7 linked regions of the Homo sapiens genome follow. The protein of the gene in region 6 interacts with the protein of the main gene of each other region in a pairwise test. Each region holds a gene or a part of one and is shown on either strand. Other genes may lie near its edges. The genes, in order: DLC1, NARF, CKMT1B, PDGFRL, PTPRJ, SFRP4 and PTPN12.

Region 1 (4,327 bases), on a different chromosome or scaffold from region 6:
TTCACTTTTGATCCATACACAATAAATTTACTAATACTGTCTCTTGAGTCAATCCTTACCATTACAGTAAAACCTGAATAAAGACCACCCTTCTAAAGGTTCTAAAAAACTTCACTGGTTTGGGTTGGTTTTCTTCTTGTTGCGTTTTACTATGATTACTATTTTTCATTACCACTTAAATATATTTCCAGGGCATTCTAAAGGAAAAAAAAAAAAAAAGAAATGTAGGAAAAATAAAATAAGACAAAAAGTCATAAAACCAGAAAACCTATTTGCTGATAAGAACAAGCCCAATGAATAAACACATGTGGCTTTCAGGAATGCCGTTAACAACCAAAGGCGGGGAAAAAGCCTTTTGTAGGTGAGTTAAATTTACAGGGATTTCCTTGGGACACACATAGTTTCCTATATTCCCAAACATAGTGTCTTAAGGCGTTTCTGTTACAAACACAAAAATGCAAAGAATTCTAACAGGGAAAAAGTGTTGATGCTTGATTTAAGAGTAAGTGTTATCGTGTTCAGTTTTTATATCTCGACTTAAACAAAAAACAAAACAAAACAAAACAAAACCCTGTGGATCAGAGCCAGTAAGGCTAGAGGGAGCAGTTCATCCCTGAACTAATCCATACTGGTTAAAACTACATCACTATTTGCAATCGGGTCTAAAAATAAACTGCATTTGGAATGGGTGTAAGAGCCAACCTATTACAATCAAAGTACAGAAGAGGTTCGTGGAAAAGGAATATGCTTAATAACTTCGAAAAAAAATACCCATAAATGGACAAGGGTGTTGGGCCCCCTTTCTGGGTGGATTCAGGGGTAGTCAGATATTCCAGGTTAAACTGAACCTGATGCATCAATCTCCTTCTTGGAGGTGTCTCAGTGTGCCAGACACTGAATCCACCTTAGACATCTATTGCCATTCAGCCAGCAACAAACACACATTCACACTCCTCTGTGCAAACCTTTCTTTGCTCATCTTGGTGAGAAAACACATCCAAGAGTACCAACTATTCCAGTGGATACACCAGTCCCTCAACACACTGCAAATAAAGCGACACAGGTACGCATACACTGATATCACAAGAGAATGAAGTATCTTCATTATCTTCCATAATGTATTTAAAGAGTTTTGCTTCTCAGAAGCAATTTGAATAAGAATACACATAAATTTTTTTTTTTTTTTTGCACAGTCTTACATATTCCAGTCAAGGTCTATGAATACAGACCCTCAACAAACAGGAAGCAGCTTTAAAAATGTATCAAATTGCTATAGTCAATTCCTACACTCCAGCTTGTAGTTTTCTTTGTTTCAGGATTAGACACAGAACCCATTCTTCAAGGACTGGCAAAAGTTCTAGAAACAAACACCATGGTGGTGGAAGCGGTTGCGTTGCTTCAGTGATCACCTAGATTTGGTGTCTTTGGTTTCAGTGTTCTGGTTACTGAAGGAATCCCGGATCTTTACAACTTCAGCTGCACACAAATGTCCAAAAGATTTTGTGTACCATTCTGGCATGTGGCCCCTATCAGAGAAAAGAAAGAAAAGCTGATGAATTATTTAAGTTAGAAAGCATGGAAATAAAATGAGAAACATCTGTTTGCTAGTTCAAATGCATAAAATCTATCATTTCCCATGCCTTTGAATTCATGGCCGAGCTACCATATTTGCTTTGCTTTAGAACCACATTTTCTAAGGGAACCAAATTACGAAGTGGTCGCTGAAAGACCAACAAACATGAAATGCTACTTTCTAAACACCATTCTTCATGAAGTCACCAAGAAAAAATGACGTGTTTGTTTAAGGCATTCTTTGCATTAGACAAAAAGTCAGAATTTCCTTCATGACCCTCACCATATAAAAAAATCAGAATCAGAACATACCTTAAGTCAACTCTGCACATGTAGGTGAGTTTGGATTTTCCTGGCCCACAGGGTTCAATCAAATACCTGGACAAGAGCACATTAACCCTCACACCCACCACAGGTGCGCGATCGTGATCCACAGAGGTTAGTAAAAGGGCACAGGCTCCTTTGGGTAAATTAGTCCTCCAGGTTCTGTAGAGACAAAACCAGAGGCAGAAATGATGGAATTTCATAGAAGCCAAGTTTAAAATCGTGCTTCACTCTTCACTATTTGCAGTGTGGTGACGGGTCAGGCTCAGTGGCCATGCTGTGTGACCCAGGCCTAGGTAAATGGCATCCTCTAAACTACTTGCTATGGTGTACATGTGTTCCCCAAAAAGCATGTGATGGAAAGTGAATGCCCAATACAACAGTGTTGGGAGGTGGGGCCTAATGGGAGCTGGATTAATGCCAATTATAAAAGAGCTTAAGGCTGGGTTCCATGGCTCACGCCTGTAATCCCAGCACTTTGGGAAGCTGGGGAGGGAGGACTGCTTGAGCTCAGGAGTTCAAGACCAGCCTGGACAACATAGTGATACCTCATCTCTACTAAAAATAAAAAATATTAGCCGGGCATGGTGGTGTGCTCCTGTAGTCTCAGCTACTCCGGGGGCTGAGATGGTAGGATTGCTTAAGCTGTAATCATGCCACTGTACTCAAACTTGGGCAACAAAGTGATACCCCCCCATCTCAAAATAAATAAATATAAAAATAAAAATGGCTTGAGGCTGCACATTTGCTCTTTTGCTCTCCCTTGCCCTCTCTTTGCCCTTCCACTATGGGATGACACAGCAAAAAGACCCTCATTAGGCATGGTGGGTGGCCCATGCCTGTAATCCCGGCGCTTTGGGAGGTTGAGGTAGGAGGATCGCTTGAGCCCAGGAGTTTTGAGACCAGCCTGGACAATATGGTGACACCATGTCTCTACCAGAAACAAAAAAATTAGCCAGGTGTGATGGCACATGCCTGCAGTCCCAACTACTTGGGAGGCTGAGGGGGGAGGATTGCTTGAGCCTGGGAGGTGAAGGCTTCAGCAGCCATGAGTGTGCCACTGCACCCTAGCCTTGGTGACAGAATGAAACCATGTCCCCAAATCAATCAAACAACCAACCAACTAACCAGATGCAACTACTTGATCTTGAACTTCCCAGCCTTTAGAACCATGAGCCAAATAAATATCTGTTCATTATAATTGCCTGGTCTGTGAGATTCTGTTAGAGCAGCATTACATGCACGAAGACACTGTACAAGGACTGCTGAATGAGGAACTCTGTACAGAGCCGTTGTTACAGAGGGTTTATGTGCTCAGACAGTCTCCTCTTTGAAAAAAGAGCCCATTTGAAGTGTAGCTTAAAACCATTTTTCTATTTCACAAATGTCTTGGAACACAGACACCTAAAGGAGCGCTGGCTGTTTGAAAAGGTCTGGACTTCCAATGTGACATTTCCACAAAGATTTTTGGAATTCTTCTTTCAGTAATATCTCCAGAGAATTTATGAATTACACATACATCAGCCTTAACCACATCTCCCTTGGGACTCAAATGTTATTTCCTGGCTTATTCATTCACTAGCTGTTTCTGACAAGAAAATCTATCCTAAAAGGGGCAAAAATCTGCTACGAATGAGCATATTCATTGGAAGGGGCCTCTCTTTCTGAGCTCAGTTACCAAAGAGTTCAGACCATTCTCAGCGAGGAACACACTGCTAGAATAAATGTAGATCTGTTTTCCATATTTGAAGGTGTTCACTACTTTTCTGGAAGCATATGTTTTGTTTTGTTTATTCAGAAATAAGGTCTTGCTCTGTTGCCCAGGCTGCGGTACAGTGGCATGCTCACAGCTCACTGCGGCCTCAAACTCCTGGCTCAAGGGATCCTCCTGCCTCGGCCTCCCGAGTAGCTAGGACTACAGGCATGCACCACAACATCTAGCTGATTTTTAAAATTTTTTTGTAGAGATAGGGTCTTGCTATATTACCCAGGCTGGTCTTGAACTGCTGGCCTCAAGTGATCCTCCCACCTTGGCCTCCCAGAGTGCTGGGATTACAGGTGTGAGCCACCATATGCCCGGCCTCTACTTTAAATAATTATACCATCTTGTAAGATCAGTGACATATAGGCTTGGTTCATATATGGAGTCATCCTTGTCACAAAAAAACAACTGGGAAGCGCTCACCTTAAAACAACGTAGTCTCGAGCAGGATGAGGTGCCATACTGTTTTGGACATACTGGTAAATTTCAGTTTGGCTGTCCAGAATTTCGATCACTTTTGAATCCAACAGGTCTACATCCCAGAGGTGCTGTTCTTTAAGTAGGCGCTTTAAGATTTCCTCTGGCACAGCAGGGACTTCAATGACTGACCTCCAAAGCCTCAGAGGGGGTCCTTCGCTCACCTGGAAAGAGGATGTATTTTTCAGTGCC
Region 2 (4,327 bases), on a different chromosome or scaffold from region 6:
AGAAGGTGGTCACTGTTTGGTCCCAGAGGGGTCAGCTCCCACTGTGTAACAAAACACCTGTCTGTGCACAGCAAAGGAGAAAAGTGACACTCGTCTACCATCGATCAGAGGCTGGGTTTCATGACACACGGGACATGGTCTTTTTACGTTCCAAGAGACTCTTTTGGAAGTTGCTTATCTACCCTGCGTCCTTGAAAAACGAACTTTAGAGATTAAAAAGGGCGCTTATAAACTCAAGTTATACATTCCCAATTTATCAAAAGATGACTCACCAAGACTTTTGAGGAAACCACAGAGTCTTCTGGATGCATCAGTTACACTGAGGTTGAATTTAGCAGCAAAATAAGGCAAAGATTGAGGACACACAGACACTACCAGCACTTTGTGCTTTGAGGTATCACATTTCTAGAAGGAGAAATAGAGAATGTTAGGTATCTGCTGATTACACAAGGAGTAAAAGTTACACACCTTAATGAGAAATTCAGAACAACGTTAATAGATGGTCTATGCAAAGACTAATAAAATAGACAAACACTGGCAAACATAATTAAGAAAAAGGAGAAAAAAAATCAGGATTATGGTGAGGTTTGGGCTTCTGGTAAATATTTTTTTAAAAGTCAGGATTTAAAAAATGAAACATGAGCTGGCTTCAGTGGTGCATGCCTACAGTTCCAGCTACACAGGAGGCTGAAACAGGAGGATCACTTGAGGCCAGGAGTTTGAGACTGCAGAGCGCTATAATCACACTTAGGAACAGCCATAGCCACTGCGCTCTAGCCTGAGTGACAGAGTAATACTCTGTCTCAAAAAAAAAAGAGTTTCACCCTTGTTGCCCAGGCTACAGTAAAAAAAAAAAAAAAACAGAGTTTCACCCTTGTTGCCCAGGCTACAGTACAGTGGCGCGATCTCAGCTCGCTGCAACTTCTGCCTCCCAGGTTCAAGTGGTTCTCCTGCCTCAGCCTCCCAAGTAGCTGGGATTATAGGGACCTGCCACTACACCCAGCTAATTTTTTGTCTTTTTGGTAGAGACGGGGTTTTGCCATATTGGGCAGCCTGGTCTCAAACTCCTGACCTTGTGATCCACCTGCCTCGGCCTCCCAAAGTGCTGGGATTACAGGTGTGAGCCACCTAGCCTGGCCAATACTCTGTCTTAAAAGAGACAAGACTACAGATCTAAAAGACTTTGTCAATTTCAAGAACAATGTTATATCAGTAAATGTGAATATCTGGAAAAAATAAATAATTTTAAAGGGAAAATACAAATTACAACATTGGCCAATGAATAAGTGAAATTACTACACAACAATAAAAAAAACAGACACACTAAAATGGTATCCAGAGATGCCTCTTAAAAGTCATCAGCCCGGCTGGGCATGGTGGCTCATACCTGTAATCCCAGAACTGTGGGAGGCTGAGGCAGGCGGATCATTTGAGGTCAGGAGTTCAAGATCAGCCTGGCCAACATGGCGAAACCCATCTCTACTAAAAATACAAAAATTAGCTGGGTGTGGTGGCATGTGCCTGTAATCCCAGCTACTCGGGAGGCTGAGGCAGAAGAATCGCTTGAACCCGGGAGGTGGAGGTTGAAGTGAAATGGAGGTTGCAGTGAGCTGAGATTGCTCCACTGCACTCCAGCCTGGGCGACAGAGTGAGACTCCATCTCCAAAAATAAAAAATAAAAAAATAAAAAAAAAGTTACCAGGCCTAAGATGTTTTGTGAGTAAGCCTCATCTACAAACTGTTCTAAAAAAATACTGCATAAACTAGCATAAACTAGATGTTGGCAGCGCAATAGAAGACAGGTTCAGATATAAGAGTCAAGGGCCAGGCGTGGTGGCTCATGCCTATAATCCCAGCACTTTGGGAGGCCGGGGCTGGTGGATAGCCTGAGGTCAGGAGCTCGAGACCAGCCTGGCCAAAAGGGAGAAACCCCATCTCTACTAAAAATACAAAAGCTAGCCAGACATGGTGGTGTGCACCTGTAATCCCAGATACTCAGGGGGCTGAGGCAGGAAAACTGCTTGAACCCAGGAGGTGGAGGTCGCAGTTAGCCAAGATCGTGCCACTGCACTCAAGCCTGGGCGACAGAGTGAGACTCCATCTCAAAAAAGGGTCAAGAAATAGACACGCAGTACAAGGGTGGGGTGGAAGTAATGGGGAAAAAAAAAAAAAAGAAGGCCAGGTACGGTGGCTTATGCCCGTAATCCCAGCACTTTGGGAGGCCAAGGCAGGTGGATCACTTGAAGCCAGGAATTCAAGACCAGCCTGGCCAACATGGTGAAGGCCGAAAAAAAAGAAACAAATGGATGCACATCTATCAATATATAAGAGAGGTAGGATAATATTTCAGGTCAACAGGGGAAGAACAGAAGATGCTGGAACAATTTGATTTTTTCAAATAGAAAAGAATGTATCTGGCCGGGTGTGGTGGCTCACGTCTGTAATCCCAGCACTTTGGGAGGCCGAGGCGAGCACATCACTTGAGGTCAGGAGTTCGAGACCAGCCTGGCCAACATGATGAAACCCCATCTCTACTAAAAATGCAAAAATTAGCTGGGCATGGTGGTGCCTGCCTGTAACTCTAGCTACTTGAGAGGCTGAGGTAGGAGAATTGCTTGAACCCAGGAAGGAGAGGTTGCAATAAGCTGAGATCACGACACTGCACCCCAGCCTGAGAGACAGTGAGAGACTCCATCTCAGAAAAGAAAAAAAAGGAAGAAGAATGTATTCACATCGCACACCGTACTAAAATATAAGTTGTAGACTGGACAAGCAGCATAAGATAAAATATAAACTGTCAATAAACATCATCTAGGGTAACCAACTTCTCTAAATAAGCAAGAAAATGCAAATGAGATACAATTCTCTATGTATCAGGGGGGAAAAAACTGAATTTGATATTGAATGTGACCAGGATGGCTGCACACAGCTGTTTGCCCCTATCACTTAGGGAAGCATAAAGTGACACAGACACTTTCAAGGGTTTTTGCAAAAACCGTTGACACCACAGAATTAAGTCTCTAGTAGTCTGCAAAGCTGTATCCACTAAGTCTGTTCAACGTAACAAAATGGCTGAAGCCATTCTGTTCCCTGAAAGGCCAAGGGTGAGCAGGTGGGGACGGGTATGCATGGCGAACCTGGCTGATGGGTGGGGGGCATCTCCTGGTTCAGACCATCCTATCCAGGCAGCCTGCTGCTTGCTAACGGAGTTCCCGTGCAAGTGCATATAAGTCAGGGTACACCCAGACACAACTAATGCTGGCAACACAGAGGACATGTGTCTCTATCTGCAATTGTGATCTAGGTCATGGGTGGTGGCTGATGCCTATAATCCTAACACTTTGGGAGGCTGAGGCTGGAGGATCGCTTGAGCACAGGAGTTCAGGACCAGCCTGGGCAACATGGCAAAACCCTGTCTCTACAAACAATACAAAAATTAGGCAGGTGTGGTAGCACGCGTCTGTAGTCCCAGCTGCTCTGGAGGCTACAGGGAGCCTCCAGAGGTGGGAGGATCACCAGAGTCTCCCCACTGAGACTCTCTCCACTGCACTCCAGCCTGGGTGAGGCCCTGTCTCACAAAGAAAAATATTGTGATCTAATTGCTGCTGGATGACTTGTCCAGAAGCCATGGGGGTGAATGGCAAACGCTGAGAAGGCTCCTTGGCTGTCCCCTATGCCACCCACTTGTGCCAGTCAGTGTTTCTTGAGGCCCCTACCTTGCTCTAGCACACTACCTACTGTGAATGGGCTCCTACACCCTGGGCAGGGTAGGATGCCGGTGCTTCCCGTGGAGGTGACAGCATGGAAACCAAGAAGTGCTTTTCAGCCTCATCTGCCTTTGTCTCTTTCTCTTTCACCTGTGATATGGTTTGGCTCTGCGTCCCCACCCAAATCTCATGTGAAACTGAAGGCTGGGCCTGGCAGGAGGTGACTGGGTCATGGGGGCGGATCTCCCACTTGCTCTTCTCATGATAGTGAGTGAGTCCTCACAAGATCTGGTTGTTTACAAGGGTGCAGCACCTCCCCCTTTACTTGCTCTCTCCTGCTGCCACGTGAAGACATGCTTGCTTCCCCTTCACCCTTCCGCCATGGTTGTTCCCTGAGGCCTCCCCAGCCATGTCTCCTGTAGATCCTGTGGAACTGTGAGTCAATTAAACCTCTCTGCTTTATAAATTAGCCAGTGTCACGTAGTTCTTTGTAGCAATGTGAGAATGGACTAATACAACCTGTCTCACGGAAAGACAAGTGGCACCTCTCGTTCTGTATAGGAGGTCTGCAGGGATGAGCTGAAGGAAGGAGCTTTGGGAATTTTTACTTCCTTGGAGTG
Region 3 (3,707 bases), on a different chromosome or scaffold from region 6:
CCCTAATTTGGTGCTGTCTGGCTCTTAGAGTGCACCCAGGGAGATCCCTGGAGTGAAGGAGTCTACAGGCAGAGCGCTAATTTCCAAGTATCAATGCTCCTGGAGAGCTGAGTTGTGATATTACTCCCATTCCCTGTCTATTATAGGTCGAAGTACAGCCTGGGGCCTCCAGGACTGGTCACGACCTTCCTGGTCCCTGGTATTGACTATCAGCTTCCTTGGCCACCTGCTATGAGCCTGTCTCTACAGTAGAAGGAGATTGTGGGGAGAGAAATCTTAAGTCATAATGAATAAAGTGCAAACAGAAGTGCATCCTGATTATTTTCAGAAGCTGATGAGGAATATGGGTAAAATGTTAATGCTTTCCACCCACCTGAGAATCAGTGTTCCTGGGTTGCCATATCTGGAGTCTCTTTCCATCATAAATAATCCCACTGCCTCTTTTCATTTCCTGAAGGCTGCTCCCTCCTCACCCCACCATTAGAAGTAACACAGACAGCTGCAGCATAGCAAGGAGTCTTTACTAGGATGGAGGCAGGGGATGCGGGGGCAGGTCCAGAGCAAGTAGAATGGGCCATCATTAGAATGAGCAGAACTCCTGGGAATCTTGAGTCATCAGCTGGCGATGGGGAGTTAATGCTTGGTGTGGATGACAGGTGTGGGGATGCGGATATCCTGGCCTCTCTCCAGACGCCGTTCACAATCAATCAAATAGTTTACTCCATCGATGACCAGTTGCACCAGCTCCACCTAAGGGACACTAATCTTTGATCTGCTTCCTACAGTCTGAGTTTTTCTTTATCACTGACTGACTTGCCTGCTCATTTCCAATTGCCTCCCCACTCAACCTGAATTTCATTTCAGATTATCTTACATCCCGGAGGCTCACTCACTGCCATATTTCGGCCCTCGCAGACCTATACCTCTCCTTGTCCTAATCCCTTAGGATCTCACCTCTGATTTGCCTAGTCGGTCCAAATTAGAAATATCAAAGACACCGCCTGTAGCAGCAGTGTCCACTCCTCCAGTACCACGTTTTTGGAGTCTTAGGTTCTCCAGGATCTTTGGGAAGCGGCTATCCTAGAGAGGAGATAGGGATTGGGAGCAGGGTCAATAGAGGCAGAGACTAGTCCTACCTGAAAGAGCCCTGAACCTGCTCAGAGCTCTGTCTCCTGAACTTTTTTTTTCCTTTTTTCTTTTTTCTTTTTTAATTTTTTTTAGACAGGGTCTCTCTCTGTCACCCAGGCTGGAGTGATCACAGCTCACTGAAGCCTCGACTTCCCAGGCTTAAGTGATCCTCTCACCTCAGCCTCCACTACACCCAGCTAACTTTTGTATTTGTAGTAGAGATGGGGTTTCACCAGGTTGCCCAGGCTGGTCTTGAACTCCTGGGCTCAAGTAATCTGCCTGCCTTGGCCTCCCAAGTGTTGGGATTAGAGGCATGAGCCACTGTGCCTGGCCTGTCCTCTGACCCTTTAGCCACAACATGTTTGGCTCCTTTCCAAAGGGTCCACTCCCTCCCCATCCACAACCCACCCTTCCTTACTCACACCCCTCTGTAACCCCACAACTCCTTTACTTTGCTTAGCAGGGGCAGTTTGATGTGCACTCCTGCCCGAAGTCCAGTGCCCAGGTTAGATGGACAGGTCAAGATGTATCCCAAACGCTCATTCCACATGAACTCCCAGCCACGTTCTTGGATAAGTCTCTCCACCTGAGTCCACAAAGGTTTTGTTAACGAAAAATCAGGGATATTTCATTAACCCTGGACCCTCCCTTAGCTAGACCCACAAGAACACTAGAAATATGTCTAGAACAGAAACTTGGCTGTGAATGAATGACATTGGTCTTTTTTTAAATGAAAAAGGTTTGTTATTGTTTTCATGCATGCATGATGCAAAATTATGATGTGCATAATAATGAGATTGTGAAAAAATATCTTATGTGGAAGAAGAAAACTCGAAGGAGTGGTGTATTAAGGATGATCTAGGGAAATGAACAGAGGTGGTAAACTGAACTGAGAGATGACTGATTATTCAATGAGGTCTGCATGCATCGATTATCTTTGCTTTGCTAATGAGCCTAGAGCTTAGAAGGGTCCCTTCAGACAGAAGATGAAGGTGTAAGCTTTGCCAGGAAGAGGTAAGATAACATTCTGTTAGCTGTGAACGGAGCACCTGTGTGAATGCAGAGAAAGATGAAAACAGAGCAGAAAAGCCAGATTCATAGGAATAGGGGGCGGGGGGAAGGCGTTTGGCTTCACTTAACCATGTAGTCATGAAGATGACTATTAGAGTTCAAGAGACAAGGGATCTAGCAGAATGATGGTCACAAAGACCACAACCCAACATGAGTAAAGGGATCCTCTTTATAGTTCAGAAGGAACCATGCCATAGGGGATATCTTACATGCTGAACATGGGGGGAAACTCTTCCATCCAGAATAATATTGCAGCTAACACTTTAACACTTATTAAGCACTTACTGTGGACCAAGTACTTTACCTGTATTTCACTTAATCCCCACAACAACCTAAAATGTAGAAAATCTCATTATCCCAATTTTACAGATGAGGAAACTGAGGCATATAATTTAAAGGTACTTCCCTACCCACTCATAGTCAGAATATGTTATCTATTACTTGCCAAAAATAGTAGAAACTTCTCAGAATCTAAAAGAGGAGCTCTTTTTCTTTGCAAACCTAAAATAGAACTGTATGTTTGAGAACATACAGTAAGAATTGAATTGAGTTTATGGGGATTTCTAATGTAGACTTGAATACGGAGACCCAATCCATGTAGGATTGATGATTCAGTTCAACCTCTCATCTAGAGCCACATATTCTAGAACTTGAACCATTCTATCCTCCACCTTCCCCAGTCTCTCTCCGAACTCTCAACTTAAAGCCTAGACCCGATACTTTAACAAGAATGATAGAATCCAGAGTCAAGGCCTACCTTGTCTCAGAACTGGGTGGTTATATTAGAGTCATGAACACAGCAACCTCTCCCCGCCAACATCAATCTAAGCTCGAATGTTTTCCTTATCTGCACACCTCACCATCCCACTGCACACATCCCAGGCACTGACGTGCCATCTCATTTATTCCTTCTTTGCACTCTCTGTCAACAGCCTTGTTCACTTCCTAAGATTCCTGACACTCTTTCTTTTCCTAATCTTAGTGTGACCACATGTCCTGGTTTTCCCAGTATGGTCCCAGCTGGTTTACACCTTTAGTCCTGGAGTGAGTCCTAGATAGTCCTTTTTACTATAAGACATGTCCTGGGTTGGTTGGTAAATTACATAATCTATTTATGCTACTCTTTGGTTTTCCTTATGTCCTCCCACCTAGCTCCCCTACATAGTCTTCTCTAACCTCTTTGAGGCCTCGGCAGAATCTTTCAAACACTCTCTTCATGTTACCACCCTTCTCCATGGAGATCACCCGTGTATGATCCTCCTCATTCACCCAGATCAGGAAGCTCTTCTCATTGTTGTGCCTGAGGGCCGGAGAGGGACAGTGATCAAGAGGCAAGGCAAGAATTGGGAGAGATAGAGGGAAAAAAAGCATTTATGAGGGCATGAAGACAAAAGAGGTAATGAGCAGCTTCATACCAAATTCCACGAGCATCTGGCCAGTCTCGAGCCATTCCTGCTGCAGTCAGCAACGGGGACACAGGCTTATCAAACAGAAAGTGGTCCTGGGAA
Region 4 (4,327 bases), on a different chromosome or scaffold from region 6:
AGAGAAGAATCTGGAGTGGATAATATTGAAGATGTTTTCTTAGCAACAACACTTTAGGATTTTATGATTGCAAGATTTAGAGGCAACTTTTGTTTTAAAAGTGTGTAGAATAATCTGAAGCGATAAGCAGAGCCATTAGTCGAATAAGTGAACCGTGTGAATTTAAGAACACAAAAATATCTTCTTGTATTTTTATTTTTTGAGACAGGGTCTCACGCTGTTGCCCAGGCTGGAGTGCAGTGGCACCATCATGACTTACTGCAGTTTCAACCTCCAGGGCTCAAATGATCCTCCCACCTCAGCCTCCTGAGTAGCTGGGACTACAGGCACGTGCCACCATGCCTGTCTAATTTTTTATTTTTTAGTTTTTCTAGAGTCAGGGTCTCACTATGTTGCCCAGGCTGGTCTCAAACTCCTGGACTCAAGCAGTCCTCCTGCCTTGGCCTCCCAAAGTGCTGAGATTACAGGCATGAGCCAATGTTCCCAGCCTTACTTCTTATACTATAATATATACTTTACTTCTTATACTATAATACATACTTTGAAATGTGACCAAACCAGTTGCTTTAAAAATATATTTGCAATCCGTAGCTTCCATCAACAATAACAAAGTGTTGAAGTTTGTTTTAATAATTATAGATTACACATGTCCCCTGCAAATGTATTTATATCCACTTATCTAGAAGACAAATGTTTTACTTAAAGAAAACTAAACACATGGGATTTTAGATTAAAAAAAAAAACTCGACCAGGTGCAGTGGCTCACGCCTGTAATCCCGGCACTTTGGGAGGCCAAGGCAGGCGGATCATGAGGTCAGGAGACCGAGACCCTCCTGGACAACATGGTGAAACCCCATCTCTGCTAAAAATACAAAGATTCGTTGGGCACTGTGGCGCATGCCTGTAATCCCAGCTACTCGGGAGGCTGAGGCAGGAGAATCGCTCGAACCGGGGAGTCGGAGGTTGCAGTGAGCTGAGATGGTGCCACTGCACTCCAATCTGGCAACAGAGGGAGACTCCATCTCAAAAAAGACAAAAAAACAAAAAAATGCGGGGGGGGGAGGGATAGCTTTAGGAGATATACCTAATGCTAAATGACGAGTTAATGGGTGCAGCACACCAGCATGGCACATGTATACATATGTAACTAACCTGCACATTGTGCACATGTACCCTAAAACTTAAAGTATAATAATAATAAATAAAAATAAAAATAAAAAAATAAATAAATGCAAGTTAACAAGCTATAAACTAAATCCAAATTACAACAAATTCAGTATTTTGAGACAGTCTCACTCCGTCACCCAGGCTGGAATGCAGTGGTGCCATCTCGGCTCACTGCAACTTTGACTCGCTGCCTCCTGGGTGTAAGCAATTCTTGTGCCTCAGCCTCCCGAGTAGCTGGAATTACAGGCGTGTGCCACCATGCCCACCTAATTTTTGCATTTTAGTACAGAGGGAGTTTCGCCATGTTGGTTAGGCTGGTCTTGAACTCCTGACCTCAAGTGATCCGCCTGCCTCGGCTTCCCAAAGTGCTAGGGGATTATAGGCATGAGCCACTGCACCCAGCCAGGAAAGTACTTATTAATGTGGTTTTCCTACGTATAAAAATTAGAGCCTCAGCCTTTTACTATGAGAAAGCTCTGCTGCTGGTAATGTTCTCATCCTTGATCTGGGTGGGAGTTACATGTGCCTGTTTGCTTAAGGATAATTTATTGAGCTGTATTCTGAGAATTTGAATGTTTTTCTTTACATATGTTATACTACAATAAGAAGTGAAAGAGAAGCAGGGAAAACCTTCCAAGATCCTCCTGGATCAAGATGAAAGAGGAAATACATACGGCAATTATTTAATCACAAACTGCACACTAACAACAGTCAGTCCCCCAAAAGAAGCTTCAGTGTTTTTAATCAAACTCTAGGAAACATACAAACATAATGAATGACAAACATTTCTCCACATGGGTAGCCAGGAAACACATGTTCTGAAAGAATCCTGAGCCAGCAGTGAGAACCTCAGCTTCTGTAACAGCCCATCTTGGTTTCTCAAAGCCATCCATGCTTGAAAAGACAAATTGCCAAACCCTATAGTAAAAATCCAACTGGACTCCTAGCTTAGTGTTGACAAATAAGAAAAAATAAATGATGTATAACACATTAGGTCAAATGTGTTACAGCATTTATTTTTTTTGATCAAAGTTTCTTGATAGTTGGAATGAATATATTTTAGCTTTTCTTTGGTTCCCAAAATTAGTTCAGTTAAAAAAAAAACAAAAAGGTTCCGCCTCCAAAACTCAAAGAGAGCCCGTATTTTTTTTTTTTGAGGTAAAGTCTTGCTCTGTCGCCCAGGTTGGAGTGCAGTGGCGCAATCTTGACTCACTGCAACCACCAACTCCGAGATTCAGGCGATCCTCCTGCTTCAGCCTCCTGAGCAGCTGGGAGCACAACTGTGCACCACCACGCCCAGCTAACTTTTGTATTTTTGTAGAGATGGGATTTCTCCATGTTGGCCAGGCTGTTCTCGAACTCCTGACCTCAGGTGATCCGCCCGCCGTGGCCTCCCAAAGTGCTGGATTACAGGTATGAGCTACCATGCCTGGCCAAGAGCCCATAATATTAATAGGATATTCTGCCCAAGCTAAGCCTGCAGTTCAAAACCTCGACCAATACTTTGGGAAGACACAACAGTGCTAATCTTGGCAAAGAATCTTCCTTCTGCAACTTGAAATGTGGAATCAGTCATTGACTTGAATAACAGACTTTTATTCATCTTAGTTGGTTGCTTTTTCCACTGTTGCTTCACAGCATGGTATAATACAAAGGGCACATTTACAATCTTGTGTAGCGAGTTCCAAAATGAAGATCCAAAGAGATTGCCTATGAACAATTATTAGCAATTCTCCTGACAACACCAGTTATGCTAGCTAGAATCTGGCTATCAGTCCATCCTTCACCTTGTCCTACAAAAGGTTCAAGGCAGTAAAAACACTGGATCCTGGGTCAGAAAAACAGGTTTGGCTCCTTATTGTGCCACTACAGGTCCTGGAACATTGAGGCTCAGCATGAGCATTAGTACTTCTAGTATTTTGGAGATAATAAAATAGCTTTTGCTTATTTCCCAGGGATGTTGTGGAATGAAACTGATAGAGGCAGGAGGCAGAGAACTCTCCTAAGCAGATACGGGAATGTCCTTAGAGAACCTCTGACCTACCAAGGTCATTGTGCACAGGGGTCTTGCCTAAACATACCCCCAGTGAAAAATTCCATCCCTTAACACACATGCAGTAAGGGAAATAAATCAACGTGGAGTGACTCAGATTAAGGGCCTGCAGGTACACTGAAAGGATGGGGTGGAGCCGCCAGGAATTCACGCCTCTTACAAACAGGGAACCCAGCCCTACCGAGGGAACATAGAAGCCCTTGTATTCAATTGTGTGGAGAGCAACCTGCAACCTGCTTTCAGGACCCCTCTTTTTGCTGAGAGCTTTCCTTTTCGCATAATAAATTCTACTCCACGCACTCTTTTAAGTGTCTGTGTGCCTAAGTTTTCCTGGCATGAGACAAGAACTTGGATCTCTGAACTAAGGAGTAAAAAGTCTGCATCAAAATGAGATACATGTGCTTCCAGAACTGCAGCATACCCTACTAATGCATCTCCTTGCCAGAGAGGAGCTATTTGGGCAGGAAAGGACAAATACATAAGATTGTACTAAAACATTCTTTAATGGTCAGGGCATAACATCCTTTGGGTCATAGGCCTATGTCTAGGTCTAGGCCTATGTCTAGGTCTACGTCTGAAAGGTAGGTGGATTCAAGGCATGGAGAAATTTCATGAAAGTCCCTGCCCAGGCACTAACAAAGGATTCTGGTTTCACCTGAAATGTCTTGGACGACAATAGGACGAGGGTGGCTTTGTAAGATTCCTGAAAGCTCTTACTGACTTCTGAACCTTGCTGGAGAACTTCATCCCCTAAACTTCAGAACTTAGAGAACATTACAGAAGAAAGAGGCTGAGCAGTTATTCTGCACACGTGTTTCTCAAAATGCAAGCTCCATCTTCCAGAAACATACTTTGCACTGCAGAGAAGAGTTCTCCACTCTGACCTGAACATTTTGAGGCAGTCCACTGAGGCTTAGGGACAGGGACTGGAGACACAACAGCCACAATCTTTGGGAATCTTGCCCCCGAAATCTCAGCTCATAGTATTCACAAGAACAAACAGGGCTGAGCAGAATGGCTCATGCCTGTAACTACAGCAATTTGGGAGACCGAAGCAGGAGGATAGCTTGAGTTCAGGAGTTCGAGACCAGCCTGGGCAACACAGTG
Region 5 (4,327 bases), on a different chromosome or scaffold from region 6:
CTGAATGGCCTGGGCTAAAAAGGGAAGAGGTAGGAGCGAGAAGGGCAGAAAATGAGTAGTGCACGGGTGCTGAGTGATAAAGGTGCCACAGTCAGCACTGTGAGCAGAAGTGCCCACCACTGTCTGCAAAGCCTTTCCTGGGCTGCCCTGAAAGCATCCTCAATTACACAGAGGGCTCTTCTCTTTATCACACATTTTCAGTTGTGAGATAGGTGAGGATCAAGAAGGATGCAAAGGCTGGGCATCATTTCAATAAACTTTTCATCTTCTCCAGCACAAAAGACAAACCAATGCCAGATATCATCCACATCCTGGCTCAGCCCCACTCAGGCCTCACCTCCCACCTATATCCTCCTGTTCCTGCGGGTCCACTCCTCCCACCCTTGCCTCCTGCTCTTCCTCCAGCCTCCAGATACAGTGGTGATGCTGCACAGGCCCCTCTGCACAGGCCTCTGCCTGTAATGTTCTCATGCCCTGATATCCACATGGCTGGCTCCTTCCCTTCATTCAGATCTTTGCTCAAAAGTCACCTTGTCATTGAGGCCTTTCCTGAGCACTCTAGGTAAACATCCCACTTCCTCCTTCGAAAAGTTCCAAGAAGGCAAGGACTTGACTGGCATATGGTATATGCTCAATAAATATTTATTGAATGCAGAAATGATGAGGGCATCGAGACAGCACCGATAAGCTAACAGGATGCCTCGGAAAGCTCAATGTCCATCACTGCACATCACACAAAACCAGACAAACTACAGACTTGGGAGGACTGACCTGCAAGGTCAGCACCACTCAGGGAGGAGTCCAAGAGGCAGTTGGGGCTACACTCACCTGTACAGAATGACTTCCGGCCAGGTTCCAGTGACTTGATCCCATCCCCTACTTGTGCAAAGATCTCCACTGTGTATGATGAGCCAGGTATTAATTCAGTGACTGTAGCGTCAGTAATTCCAATGTCCGTGACTACTTGTGTTGCGTTGCTGGAATTTCCAGCCTTCTCAATAAGAAGGCAGTAGGAGTACGTGGGAGAGGCGTCATCAAAGTTCTGCCAACTTAAAGTTGCTGCTGTGGTGTTGGTACTTACATCAATGTTGGACACATTGCTGGGCCCTTGATTTTAAAAAAAAGGCAATTCATGTAAAAGCACAGATTAAGTAGAATTCCAGGACTATTTACTATATCCAAAAATAGCCTGGCTCGTTTTAGAAAGAATGAATAAAACTAGTATTTGCTGGCTCAAAAGATGGAAAACTTCCCAAAAACACATCAAGAAAATAATTATACAGATTAAGTCTCAAAAGAAGTTTAATTTAGGCTTCTTTTAATACTTCAAGTTTATTTCAAATATATTTTTAACATTTAATTTCTAATCTGTTTTTTAAATCTAATAGATGGAGAAAAATATACTAAAAACATATTACAAACTAACATCTTTACCATGTATTTAATTCAAATATTCGCAAAACACCTCCCTAACTGTTGCAGGCGAAGCTCCTCATCTGGGCAGTATCTTCCAATACCAACATGACAAGGTGACCCTTCTCTACTCTGTATTCTCAAGGAATGACTAGAACCATTTCAGTCACCATTCCCAAGGAATCATTTCTTCCTTCTAATGACAATTCTAAGTTCACATAGCTTGAAGAACAGTGCCCCATGGTGACAGCAGAACCATTGCTGAGACCAATGTTTTCAACTTCAGCAGTTTCAGAGTCAACCTGGATCCCAGAAGCACACTGGCCATCATTTAACCAGTGCCTCCTCCAAGAGACAGTTAGAGAGGCTGTTCCTTAGAAGGGCATCCTAAGAGACTTACGTGTGTACTGTGCAGTGGAGTTGGGGTCCCCCCAGACGTGGTCCACTTCTGGAGAGATGGTGATGTTATATAAGGTGCCCGGAATCAGGCCCTGGAGAGTAATCGCTTTGTCATACGTGCTTGTGTGGTTAGAGCCATGCTTGGACTCTATGACTAAATGGTAGACATACTCGGAAGCACCGTCAGGGCTCTTCCAGTCCAGCCACATCTCCGTGGTGGTGACGTAGACCACGTGGATGTCAAACACTGCACTGGGAACTGCTCAGAAGAAAGGAAGGAGAAGGGAAAACTGTTACTATCATGACGCCCAGCTTCCTCTCCAAGTGCTGTCGAGAGGACCTGCTCTTTTGCCATTACGCTTTCTAATGAGTTCACAAAAGGCACACTCCAAAATCGAGCTGAGAAATGCACACACTCAGTGCTCTCAAGAATTTCAGCTCTTCTGTGACGCACATGAACTTCCCAGTTTATCTTACCAGTTCTCCAGTTTTTTGTTGTTGTCTTAAAAATGAGCCCTTAGGCTGGGTGCAATGGCTCATGCCTGTAATCCCAACATTTTGGGAAGCCGAGATGGATCACTTGAGGTCAGAGGTTCGAGACTAGCCTGGCCAACATGGTGAAAACCCATCTCTACTAAAAATACAAAAATTAGTTGGGTGTGGTGGTACACGCCTGTAATCCCAGCTACTCGGGAGGCTGGGGCACAAGAGTCGCTTGAACCCAGAAGGCAGAGGTTGCAGTGAGCCGATATCACACCACTGCACTCCAGCCTGGGCGACAGAATGAGGCTCTGTCTCAAAAAAAAAAAAAAAAAAAAAAAGGCCAGGCGCGGTGGATCACGCCTGTAATCCCAGCACTTTGGGCAGCCAAGGCAGGCGGATCACCTGAAGTCGGGAGTTTGAGACCAGCCTGACCAGCATGGAGAAACCCCGTCTCTATCAAAAAAAGTACAAAATTAGCCGGGCGTGGTGGTGCATGCCTGTAGTCCCAGCTACTTGGGAGGCTGAGGCAGGAGAATCACTTGAACCCGGAAGGCAGAGGTTGCAGTGAGCCAAGATCGCGCCATCGCACTCCAGCCTGGGCAACAAGAGCGAAACTCCATCTCAAAAAAAAAAAAAAAAAAAAAGCCCTTCAAGGGGTCATCTGAAGTGGAAATCACATTCAGTTTTTTTATATGGGTGCTGGTAACAAGATGTGTTCAGTTTGTAAAAGTTCATGAAGCTATGTGCTGAGGATACATCCCTTTTCGGTATGTATATTATATCTCAATAAAGAGGTTTTTTTGTTTTGTTGTGTTTTTTAAATCAGTCACTCAGAAGGAAACATCTTCCCGTGACACAGCCTTACATACCAAAGAGGAAAACTGAAATGGAGAGCTGACCTTTACTAAGTTGCAGCATTTGAGGACGGATGAGGAAGGGAAGAAAACAGGCACACCCTGCACCTTCAGAGCAGAGTCAGAAATGGAATCTCCCACAGGAGCCCATCCTCCGATCATCTCCCGCTGCCCACTCAGCCACCTGCACCAGGGATGCCTACATAGAGGCCCGGAAGTAACCGCGGAGGCTGGGCCTATTTTCTACCGCGGCTTTCAACCCTGTCTCTCTTTACCTGGCAACAAACGTCACCTCCAGGGAGAGGAAATGGGCAGGTAGGGGACAAAAAAGGGAAATGCTTTCACTGCAAACACCTTGTCCAAAAAACAAAAAAAATTGTGCCATGTTTACGTACTATCTACTCCAAAATTAATTTTTTTTTTAATTTTAAGTGGATTCTCCTTACAGAGAAGCCACTGGGAGGAGCCTTTGTTTCCTACCAGCAGATTCCTGATGTCAAAGGGATTCCACAGACAAAAGCCCATGAAAGGCAGCCTTTGTCTATAAACATAAAAACCTAGAAACAACCTAAATATTCAATAACATGGGGAGGGCTGTGGGCACTGTGATCTGGCTGCATGATGAAATACTCTTTAGCCACTAAAAATATGAAGGCCATGCTAACTATAGGGGAAAGTTGTGGTATAGACTGAGTAAAAAGAAATTCAAATACAAAATAAAAGTATTTGTATAATAATTACAGTATACAAGCAAAATGTATGACTGTGGACACAGAGAGAAAAGGAATTCAGTTGGGTTAGAAAAATAGAGATATTTGTTCCTTTTCATTTTTATTGTGGTAAAACATACATACCATAATATTTATCATCTTAACCATTTGTCAGTGTACAATTCGGTATCATCAATATTCACAATGTTGTGTAACTATCACCACTACCTGTACCCAAAACACTGTCATTATCCCCAGCATAAACTGTAGCCATTAAACAATAATGCCCACTCCCTCCTCTGAACAGCCCCTGGTAACCTCTATTCTAATTTCTGTAGAATATTAAGTTGCCTAATCTAGGTACTCATGTAAGTGGAATCATCCAGTATTTGTCCTTCTGTGTCTGGCTTCACTTAGCATAATGTCCTCAAGATCCATCCATGTTGTACCATAAATCAGAATTTCTTT
Region 6 (4,327 bases):
GATGGTACAGGAAAGGCCTCTTGATGTTGACTGTAAACGCCTAAGCCCCGGTGAGTTCTTTCTTCATGGACGTTCCCTCTACTTCTCCTCTCCAGAGTGATTTCTGTTCTTTTTCCAACTTTCTGCCTCTTCTGCCTTTTTTAGATCGGTGCAAGTGTAAAAAGGTGAAGCCAACTTTGGCAACGTATCTCAGCAAAAACTACAGCTATGGTAAGTCGTCTGTTAAAGCCATTTACTTTTGAGACTTGGTTCATTACAAAGCTGGAATCTCAATAAGGTCGCTCTCACTAAAGCTAGTCACAAAGTAAAGAAAACAAAAGGTTGACTATTTTTCCAGTTGATCATGTGAATTCTATTAATATATGGCACAATAACAACTGCAAAATATCTTGCTTTTCTGGATGAATCAAGTGCAAACAAAGGAAATGACCCAGGTGATAAAAATTACATGCATCAGATTGAAAATTTGACATCTTGATCCTCCTTGTCTTGGTGAGAAGTGCTTATCAGCCCTGATGGCACACCCCACCTGTTCTCTTCCTGAGGTTTTACTGCTGCAGGAAGAATGAGAGAATGATCCATGGATCTGATTATCTGAGAGTCAGAGAATTAAGGCCCATAGGCCCAGACAATTAAGATCTGCCTGCATATCCTTTTACTTGTGACTAGCTACAAATATTTAACATCTTAAATAAATTGTGAAAAAAATGTTAATCACAAAATCCTATGGTTACACTATCGAACTAGTTTAAATGCCCTCCTCTCTCTTACTTGAAAGAACCATTCAGCATTTTCTTCCATGAATAAGTCAGTCATGAAATTTGAAATGTTTTAAGTAATTTTAATTTCACAATTGTCATCTGAAAGTAAATTTAATTAACATATGTTCTTTTTCAATTCAAAAAGAAATGTAAAAGGCAGACATTTTAAAAATGTCTGTTTGGGCTGCCTACTTTATATTTCATTGCATGTCTTAAATCATTTCTGCTGAAATAACATAAAGTGGTTTTAGGGAAAATGCTTATTTTGTTTGCTGACTTAGTTTTCATCTTGCAGATTGAAATTTTATATCAGTAAGAAACTTTAGGATACATATCAGACATGAAAGTAGGAGGATCACAGAAATGTAGAAATCTGAAAAAAAATAAGCTGTTACAAAACTATCAGATTTAAGAATCATATTTAGCCAATGGGGGTAATTCAGCAACAACAAAAAGTAGTTTATCTTTTCCTGTAGCTTTTTTTCTTAAAGCCTGCTCTATGTAGCTACCATCCTCATCTGATTTACTTAGTCCCTCCTCTGCCAAGATCCAGCCTGAGATATTAATCTGAGTTTCACTGTCATGTCATTCTCTGGGGTGTTATGGCCTTTGAACGACCTTGATGAAGAAACCATTTTGTATTCAAGTCCTTTGGTGTCTTCATAAACTGGCTTCCTGAAATGGAATCCAAGACAGAGCCATATTAGGCTGATTACAACTCTACGGGAGGCAGTAATAGCAAGAGACCACAGAAACCAGCATTTAAAACTTGGTCAGAGACAGTGACATTAACAGCCATCTGTAATAACAGTTCTATCTCTGCTCACCATGGGTCTACTTTGTCAGTCTGTGAAGTTAAAAGATTGAGAACAGTAGTCCTCAGAGACTCCCTCCAGTTCAAAAATGTTATGACTAATGACTATCTCTGTAAAACAGAAGAAGCTCAAGCATCAGATGAGTGATTGAAGAAATGCAAACCTTAAGATGACTTCTGATCTGAATATATATGATCCCCACTTCAAATCACCACAAGGAAGAATACAAATATATGTTTCTGTGAATTTTTTACTGACCTAAAGGCAGAGAAAGACTAAAACCTGCTTTTCAGCTTGCTTTCCTATCTTGCAGTATGCCCCGGAACATTTAAGACAATGTTGACAATATAGGACACCATCCATTTAGCATATGACTGTGTGGGCTGTTTGCCTGCACTCAGGCCACTTGGACATAACCATAATTACAGGAGTGATTCTTTAAGAGAGGCTCAGAAGTTGGCATGAATACACCATCCCTAGTTTTTCCCCAAAACCTTCAACAACACTTTTATCTATTTTTAAATTGCAGTTATTCATGCCAAAATAAAAGCTGTGCAGAGGAGTGGCTGCAATGAGGTCACAACGGTGGTGGATGTAAAAGAGATCTTCAAGTCCTCATCACCCATCCCTCGAACTCAAGTCCCGCTCATTACAAATTCTTCTTGCCAGTGTCCACACATCCTGCCCCATCAAGATGTTCTCATCATGTGTTACGAGTGGCGCTCAAGGTAGGCACAAAGAGGCAGAAGGAACTGTATGCACACTGTTAGGAAGACCTCAATCTCAGTTAGCAGTCATGGTTTAAAAATATAACAAAAATATGCCAAAGTCTTTTTAAAAAAATTAGTTTAACAGATGCCTCTGTTTGAATAGCATATATTCTATCAATTAATTCTTCATAGAATGAAGGAAAAATCAAAATATGAGTATTTGAATAGAGTCTTTAAAAATCAGTTTCAAAATTCATTAAGTGACTTCAAAATTTACAGCAAGTCAATTATTTTAAGGAAGAACAATTCTTTTCAAATCATTCAAACAATTTTAGAGTGGCACATACTGAACTTTTAAGGCCACTTTAATAGCTTACAGATCAAGTAAGTAGGGAGTTGAGACTATAGTTCCACATATTTTCCATATAAACACTTCATAATATTTGATAGAGTATTGCAAACAAACACGCATGCACACACACACACTTTAAGGTGATTTCTGAATCGGATATGTGATTCTCAATTCAAATCATCACAAGGCAATGTATAAACAAATAAATATATGCTTCACACACACTCATACACATACACACAAATTCTAGCTGTGTGTATTTGTCTCCCTGGCCTCTCTTTCTTTCTTATTTTTTTTGGATATTGGTACATTACTTGTAATATAAAGTCAAACTCTTGAGCCCAGCCTCCATGTTGGGCCCCATAAGTTGATGCAGTATACTTCTCCAGCAAAATCACTCAGTTTTACATAACAAGGCATCCCTCCCATTCTCTGCTGTTAATGCTCATCTGTTTCTTCTAGATATAACCTAAGACTATTCCTCTGAAAAGAAACCAAAAACATCTTTGGGAACTAACTCCACTTTTCTGTATTCTATCAGTACTTGGGTGCCCTCCTTACAACATGGATATCACCTTGAGTTCTTGGTTTTAAAGCCAGATTCTGCGTATATCTTGTCTCCCTAAAGAAGCAATCAGTGATTCTGGACTCATCTCTACCAAGGTGTTTGCATCTGCTGCAGTGCTAGAGATCCAGTTGGGGATACCAGGTTGTTGGTCATTACATTCTATCTGGAGAGATGAATGGATTATAATCCATCCCAGTAAAAATAGTTTTGGATAATTGGGATTTATGTCCTCACAAATGATTCTAATAAATTGGTAAGGGTATGTAAAGACAATTCTGAAAATAAGAGAGGAAATCTGCCTTATGAGACCCGCAAACCTGGTGTAAAGTTACACTTGTTAAAACCATGTGATGCAATAGTAGACGTAAAGATAAATGAAACAGAGGAAAAACTCTTGAAACAGGTTTTAATGCATAAAATACAGCTTTTCATTATGAAGGAAATATGGCACATCAATAGAAAATGAATGTATTATTTGGTAAATGTTGAAAATATTCCTATTTGTAAAAAAATACATTCTTTTCACTTTATACTGTGCTTTACAATAACTTTCAAATGGATTAAATAGATAAATATTCTAAGAACTTTAAAAAAAGGACAAAATTAGTGACTAAATATGTTATATCTGAAAAGAAAAGTAATTTGTAAACATAAAAGTAATGTAAGAAATTACAAGGAAAAATATCAATACACATATCTGACTGCATAATATTATACATATAAAAATCACAAATAATGATAGAAAGGCAAATAAAAATTGAGAAACATACTTGAAAAGATATGAAAAAATAGTAATCTTACTAAAGAGTTCATAAAATTAATATTTAAACATTGAGATCATGATATAGAAATATATATACAGAAATTTATATAGAGAAGTTCAAATAGTAATACAAATAGAATACAGATAGTAAGTAAACATTTAAAAAATTATCTCCTTAATTCTAAATCCAAATAAAAATAAGATTCCATTTTCACCTAATTCTTAATGTTAGTGAATTGGATGAAAGTGCAACCATTTTGAAAACAACTTGGCACTATGCATTGAAAATCTTTTTAAAAAATACATACCCTTTAACTCAGTTATTCTATTTTAAAAATCTGTCCTAAGAAAATAATAA
Region 7 (4,327 bases), about 40 Mb from region 6:
GCACCATGTTAGAGTAGGTTAGAGTAGTATTCATTGTAATCAGAAGACTAACAGAACATTAAACTGAAAAAGAATGGAGAGATGAATTTGTCCAATGCCAAACTCACTAGTCTTCTTACAGATTAGTGGTTCTCAATATACGGTCTGGGTACCCCCTCCCCTCAACCCTTTTGAGGGAGTCTATGAGCTTTAAATAATTCTCAGAATAATACTAAAATGTTACGTGCCTTATTCTTTAACAGCCAATACAATATATGCTTATGTATTCATGTTTTTTAAAAATTTCTCAGTTTTAATTTCAAATATAGTATATACTGAAAGATACAACCCCCAGAAACAAAAACTTTGGGATCCTCAATAACTTTGAAGAATGTAAAGGAGTACTGATGTCAAATGTTTTGAGAATGGTTATTGCAGGTGTTTAACAGAAAGAGCAATACTCGGAATCTAAGCAAACCATACTCAAATTCCTACTTTGGCCATTTCCTAAATAACTTCAGGTAAGCTATTTAACTTCTTAAAGCTTCTGTATCTTCATCTATGTGCAACAGACGTAACAGTATCTGGATATGATGCAGTTAGCAGAATTAAGATGCCTGATCTACCACAGAAATTCATTAAGGTACTTATTATTATTACCGTAGATTAAAAAATTAGCAACCAGTCCAGATTCAGTGGCTCACATCTGTAATCCCAACACTTTGGGTGGCCAATGCAAAAGGCAAGATCACTCAAGGCCAGGAATTTGACAGCAGCCTGAGCAACATGGCAAGACTTCATCTCTATAAACTATAAAAAATTTAGCTGGGTTTGGTGGCTCATCCCTATAGTCTCAGATACTAGGAAGGTGGAGATGGGAGGACTGCTTGAGCTCAGGAGTTTGAGTCCAGCCTGGGCAATATATAGTGAGACCCTGTTGCCAAAAAAAAAAAAAAAAAAGTCGGGGCGCTGTGGGGGGTTTCAACTAAAAACAATATATATCTAAATGAAGACTTAGCTTTGATAGTGACTTTTCTTTAACAAATTGTAAACCAGTAAAACAGGGTAATAATTATATAAACAATGCAATAACCTGCTTACTGCAATAGAATAAAAATATTTGCTGCAAAGAAGGTATAACTATTCCAAATTTAACAAATTTAGGGTATGTTATAATTAATATTACTTTTTATGTAATGTGATAAGCATAAATGTCAAGACTAAATATTACACTCTCATTTCATCTTCGTAACTAAAAAATTACCAAATTTCATTAATTATGTTAAATAACATAGTATACTATTTATATAGCTTGTTTTATTTTTTTAGTAGCTAAAAGTTGATTAGTTTGCAAAGACAAAAACTAACTTCACATGCTTTAAAAATAAAAATTGCTGTTACTTTTTTTACTTACAAAAAACTATAAAGCAGATATAAAGCAAAATAATAATATATATTATATATATTATTTGCATTTTGCAGATATAAAGCAAAATAATTTTCTAGCAAACCCATTTTACCAAATAAAACATTTAGGTAGTAGTATTATATTTTCTATTTTTAAAACATTTATTTTATTTTTTATTTTATTTTTTGAGACAGAGTCTTGCTCTGTTGCCCAGGCTAGAGTGCAGTGGCACCATCTCGGCTTATTGCAACCTCTGTCTCCCAGGCTCAAGCAATTCAAGTGCCTCAGCCTCCTGAGTAGCTGGGATTATAGGTGTGCACCACCATGCCCAGCTAATTTTAGTATTTTTTAGTAGAGATGGGGCTTCGCCGTGTTGGCCAGGCTGGTCTTGAACTCCTGGCCTCAAGTGACCAACCCACCTCAGCCACCCAAAGTGTTGGGGATTACAGGAGTGAGCCACCATACCTGGCCTCAACTTTTATTTTGGATTAAGGGGTACATGTGCAGCTTACATGGGTGTATTGTATAATGCTGAGGTCTGGAATACAAATGATCCTTACCAAAGGAGTGAGCATACTACCCAATAGGTGGTTTTTCAGCCCACGCTCCCCTCCCTCTCTATGTCTTCTCTTTGAAAACTATTCTCTATTCTCAAAACCATTTTTGAGAGTCTCCCTCTGTTGCCCAGGCTGGAGTGCAGTGGCACAATCATGGCTCACTGCAGCCTCAACCTCCCGGGCTCAGCCTTCTGAGTGAGTGGGACTATGGGCACATGCCACCATGCCCGGCTAACTTTTTTCTTTTTGTAGACACAAGATCTCACTATGTTGCCCAGGCTAGTCTTGAACCCCTGGACTCAAGTCACCCTCCCACTTCAGCCTCCCAAAGTGTTGGGATTACAGGCATGAGCCACTGCACCCAGCCTGAAAACTATTCTTACAGATAGTCTATAAATGGTAAGTACCTACATTTTGAAATTCAAGTAAGAGTGTCCTGATGAAGTAGTCTGTTCTTGCTTGTTCATCCTCCTAAATAAAGAGAAACATTTCTAAGTCAGTGAAAACGTTAAAACAAAAAGACACATCAAAACAAATAAAATACTTGTATCAAAGTCCACAATATAAAATTAATCTTTAAAATTCCAGATGTACCTGATAATTATAAAAAAATTCTAAAAGTCATCAAACATTTGAAATGTTTGAAGTGATAGACATGCTAATTATCCTGATTTAGTCACTCCACATTTTAAATTACACATACATGTACCAAAATCACATGTACCCCATTAATAAGTATAGATACTATGTGTCAATTAAAAATAATAAAAGGAAAAAAAGAGCTAGTAAGCCATGAAAAGACATGGATGAACCCTAAATGCACATTACTAAGTGAAATAAGCCAATCTGAAAAGGCTACATACTGTATGATTCAAACTATATGACTTCTGAGCTGGGAGCAGTGGCTCATGCCTGTAATTCCAGCACTTCAGGAGGCTGAGGCAGGTGGATCACTTGAGGTCAGGAGTTCGAGACCAGCCTGGCCAACATGGTAAAACCCCATCTCTACGAAAATACAAAACTTAGCTGTGTGTGGTGGCGCGCACCTGTAATCCCAGCTACTCAGGAGGTTGAGGCAGTAGAATTGCTTGAACCCAGGAGGCAGAGGTTATAGTGAGCTGAGATAGTGCCACCGCACTCCAGCCTGGGCGACAGAGCAAGACTCCGTCTCAAAACAAACAAACAAACAAACAAAAACAAACTATATGACTTCTGAAAAAGGCAAAACTATGGAGACAGTAAAAATAATGACTACCTAGGGTTGGGAAGGGGGTGAGATGAATGAATAGGTGGAGCACAGGACTTTTAGAGCAATGACACTATTCTGTATGATACCACAATGGTGGATACACGTCATCATATATTTCTTCAAACCCACAGAATGTATAGCACCAAGAATGAACCCTAATGTAAAATGTGAACTCTTGGTGATAATGACTTGTCAATGTAGGTTTGTGAATTGTAACAAAGAGACTGCTCTGGTAGGGAATGTTGATAATGAGGGCTACATGTGTGGGGACAGGGTGTATATAAGAAATCTCTGTACCTTCCTCTCAATTTTGCTGTAAACCTAAAACTGCTCTAAAAAAAATAGTCTTGAAAAAGTTAGGCAGTGGCTCACACCTGTAATGCCAGTAGTTTGAGAGGCTGAGGTGGACGGATCGCTTTAGCCTAGGGGTTCAAGACCAGCCTGAACAATATAGCAGAACCCTGTCTCTACAAAAAAATACAAAAACTAGCTGGACATTGAGGCGTAAGCCTGTGCTCTCAGCTACTTGGGAGGCTGAGGTAGGTGGATCACTAAGCCCAGCAGTGAGGCCAAGGCTATATAGTGAGCTGCGATCACGTCGCTGCATTCCAGTCTGGGTGACACAGTGAGACCCTGTCTCAAAACAAAAAACACTAAAAAAAAAATTTTTTTAAAAACCTTAAAATGAAGTCTCCTATCAGATAAAGTCTCCTAACAGATAGACCCAAACAATATGTACAAATAAGAGAAGTGAATTTGGGAATCAAGTTACCTACTAAACTAAGAAACTTGAAGAAAAAAAATTCATTAAAAAAATTTGTATAGACAGTAAAGAAAAAAACATCAATTTGCTTTTGTAAGTTTTACTTATACCTAAAAAAAAGTGTCTAAACGAATTACTTAAGCATCTACCACCCAATAAAATATCTGCAAAGTAGTAACCACCCCCAGAATCATGTAAATATACATAGAATGTCATTCCTCAGTACCAACCACCATATCCTATCTTCAACCATTTTACCTTTCCATAACACATGATTTTCCCTAACATTCAAGTTTCAATTAACTGGATAGCAACTGAAGAAGGAAGAGGGAAGAACACCCCAAATTATTATTATTATTGTGGTTGTTGAT

Evidence for each region.
Region 1: the proteins of SFRP4 (region 6) and DLC1 interact in a two-hybrid assay, tested with the Homo sapiens proteins (one large-scale study listed by BioGRID and IntAct).
Region 2: the proteins of SFRP4 (region 6) and NARF interact in a two-hybrid assay, tested with the Homo sapiens proteins (one large-scale study listed by BioGRID and IntAct).
Region 3: the proteins of SFRP4 (region 6) and CKMT1B interact in a two-hybrid assay, tested with the Homo sapiens proteins (one large-scale study listed by BioGRID).
Region 4: the proteins of SFRP4 (region 6) and PDGFRL interact in a two-hybrid assay, tested with the Homo sapiens proteins (one large-scale study listed by BioGRID and IntAct).
Region 5: the proteins of SFRP4 (region 6) and PTPRJ interact in a two-hybrid assay, tested with the Homo sapiens proteins (one large-scale study listed by BioGRID and IntAct).
Region 7: the proteins of SFRP4 (region 6) and PTPN12 interact in a two-hybrid assay, tested with the Homo sapiens proteins (one large-scale study listed by BioGRID and IntAct).

The regions. Positions count from the first base shown.
Region 1 is NC_000008.11:13,084,406-13,088,732, forward strand, and holds part of DLC1 (rho GTPase-activating protein 7), read right to left. Parts: intron 4,300-4,327; coding exon 4,082-4,299; intron 2,059-4,081; coding exon 1,885-2,058; intron 1,527-1,884; coding exon 1,406-1,526; 3' UTR 1-1,405. UniProt on the Homo sapiens protein: Functions as a GTPase-activating protein for the small GTPases RHOA, RHOB, RHOC and CDC42, terminating their downstream signaling.
Region 2 is NC_000017.11:82,464,842-82,469,168, reverse strand, and holds part of NARF (nuclear prelamin A recognition factor), read right to left. Parts: intron 406-4,327; coding exon 273-405; intron 1-272.
Region 3 is NC_000015.10:43,596,200-43,599,906, reverse strand, and holds the end of CKMT1B (creatine kinase U-type, mitochondrial precursor), read right to left. Parts: intron 3,701-3,707; coding exon 3,615-3,700; intron 3,500-3,614; coding exon 3,376-3,499; intron 2,532-3,375; exon of another isoform or gene 1,715-2,531; coding exon 1,580-1,714; intron 1,081-1,579; coding exon 955-1,080; intron 751-954; coding exon 634-750; 3' UTR 501-633; downstream 1-500. Other genes in the region: STRC (stereocilin precursor), read left to right, coding at 147-235. UniProt on the Homo sapiens protein: Reversibly catalyzes the transfer of phosphate between ATP and various phosphogens (e.g. creatine phosphate).
Region 4 is NC_000008.11:17,621,869-17,626,195, reverse strand, and holds part of PDGFRL (platelet-derived growth factor receptor-like protein precursor), read right to left. Parts: intron 1-4,327.
Region 5 is NC_000011.10:48,133,783-48,138,109, reverse strand, and holds part of PTPRJ (receptor-type tyrosine-protein phosphatase eta isoform 1 precursor), read right to left. Parts: intron 2,072-4,327; coding exon 1,814-2,071; intron 1,108-1,813; coding exon 829-1,107; intron 1-828. UniProt on the Homo sapiens protein: Tyrosine phosphatase which dephosphorylates or contributes to the dephosphorylation of CTNND1, FLT3, PDGFRB, MET, KDR, LYN, SRC, MAPK1, MAPK3, EGFR, TJP1, OCLN, PIK3R1 and PIK3R2. Plays a role in cell adhesion, migration, proliferation and differentiation.
Region 6 is NC_000007.14:37,910,096-37,914,422, reverse strand, and holds part of SFRP4 (secreted frizzled-related protein 4 precursor), read left to right. Parts: coding exon 1-50; intron 51-144; coding exon 145-210; intron 211-2,105; coding exon 2,106-2,304; intron 2,305-4,327.
Region 7 is NC_000007.14:77,595,930-77,600,256, reverse strand, and holds part of PTPN12 (tyrosine-protein phosphatase non-receptor type 12), read right to left. Parts: intron 2,416-4,327; coding exon 2,356-2,415; intron 1-2,355. UniProt on the Homo sapiens protein: Dephosphorylates a range of proteins, and thereby regulates cellular signaling cascades. Dephosphorylates cellular tyrosine kinases, such as ERBB2 and PTK2B/PYK2, and thereby regulates signaling via ERBB2 and PTK2B/PYK2.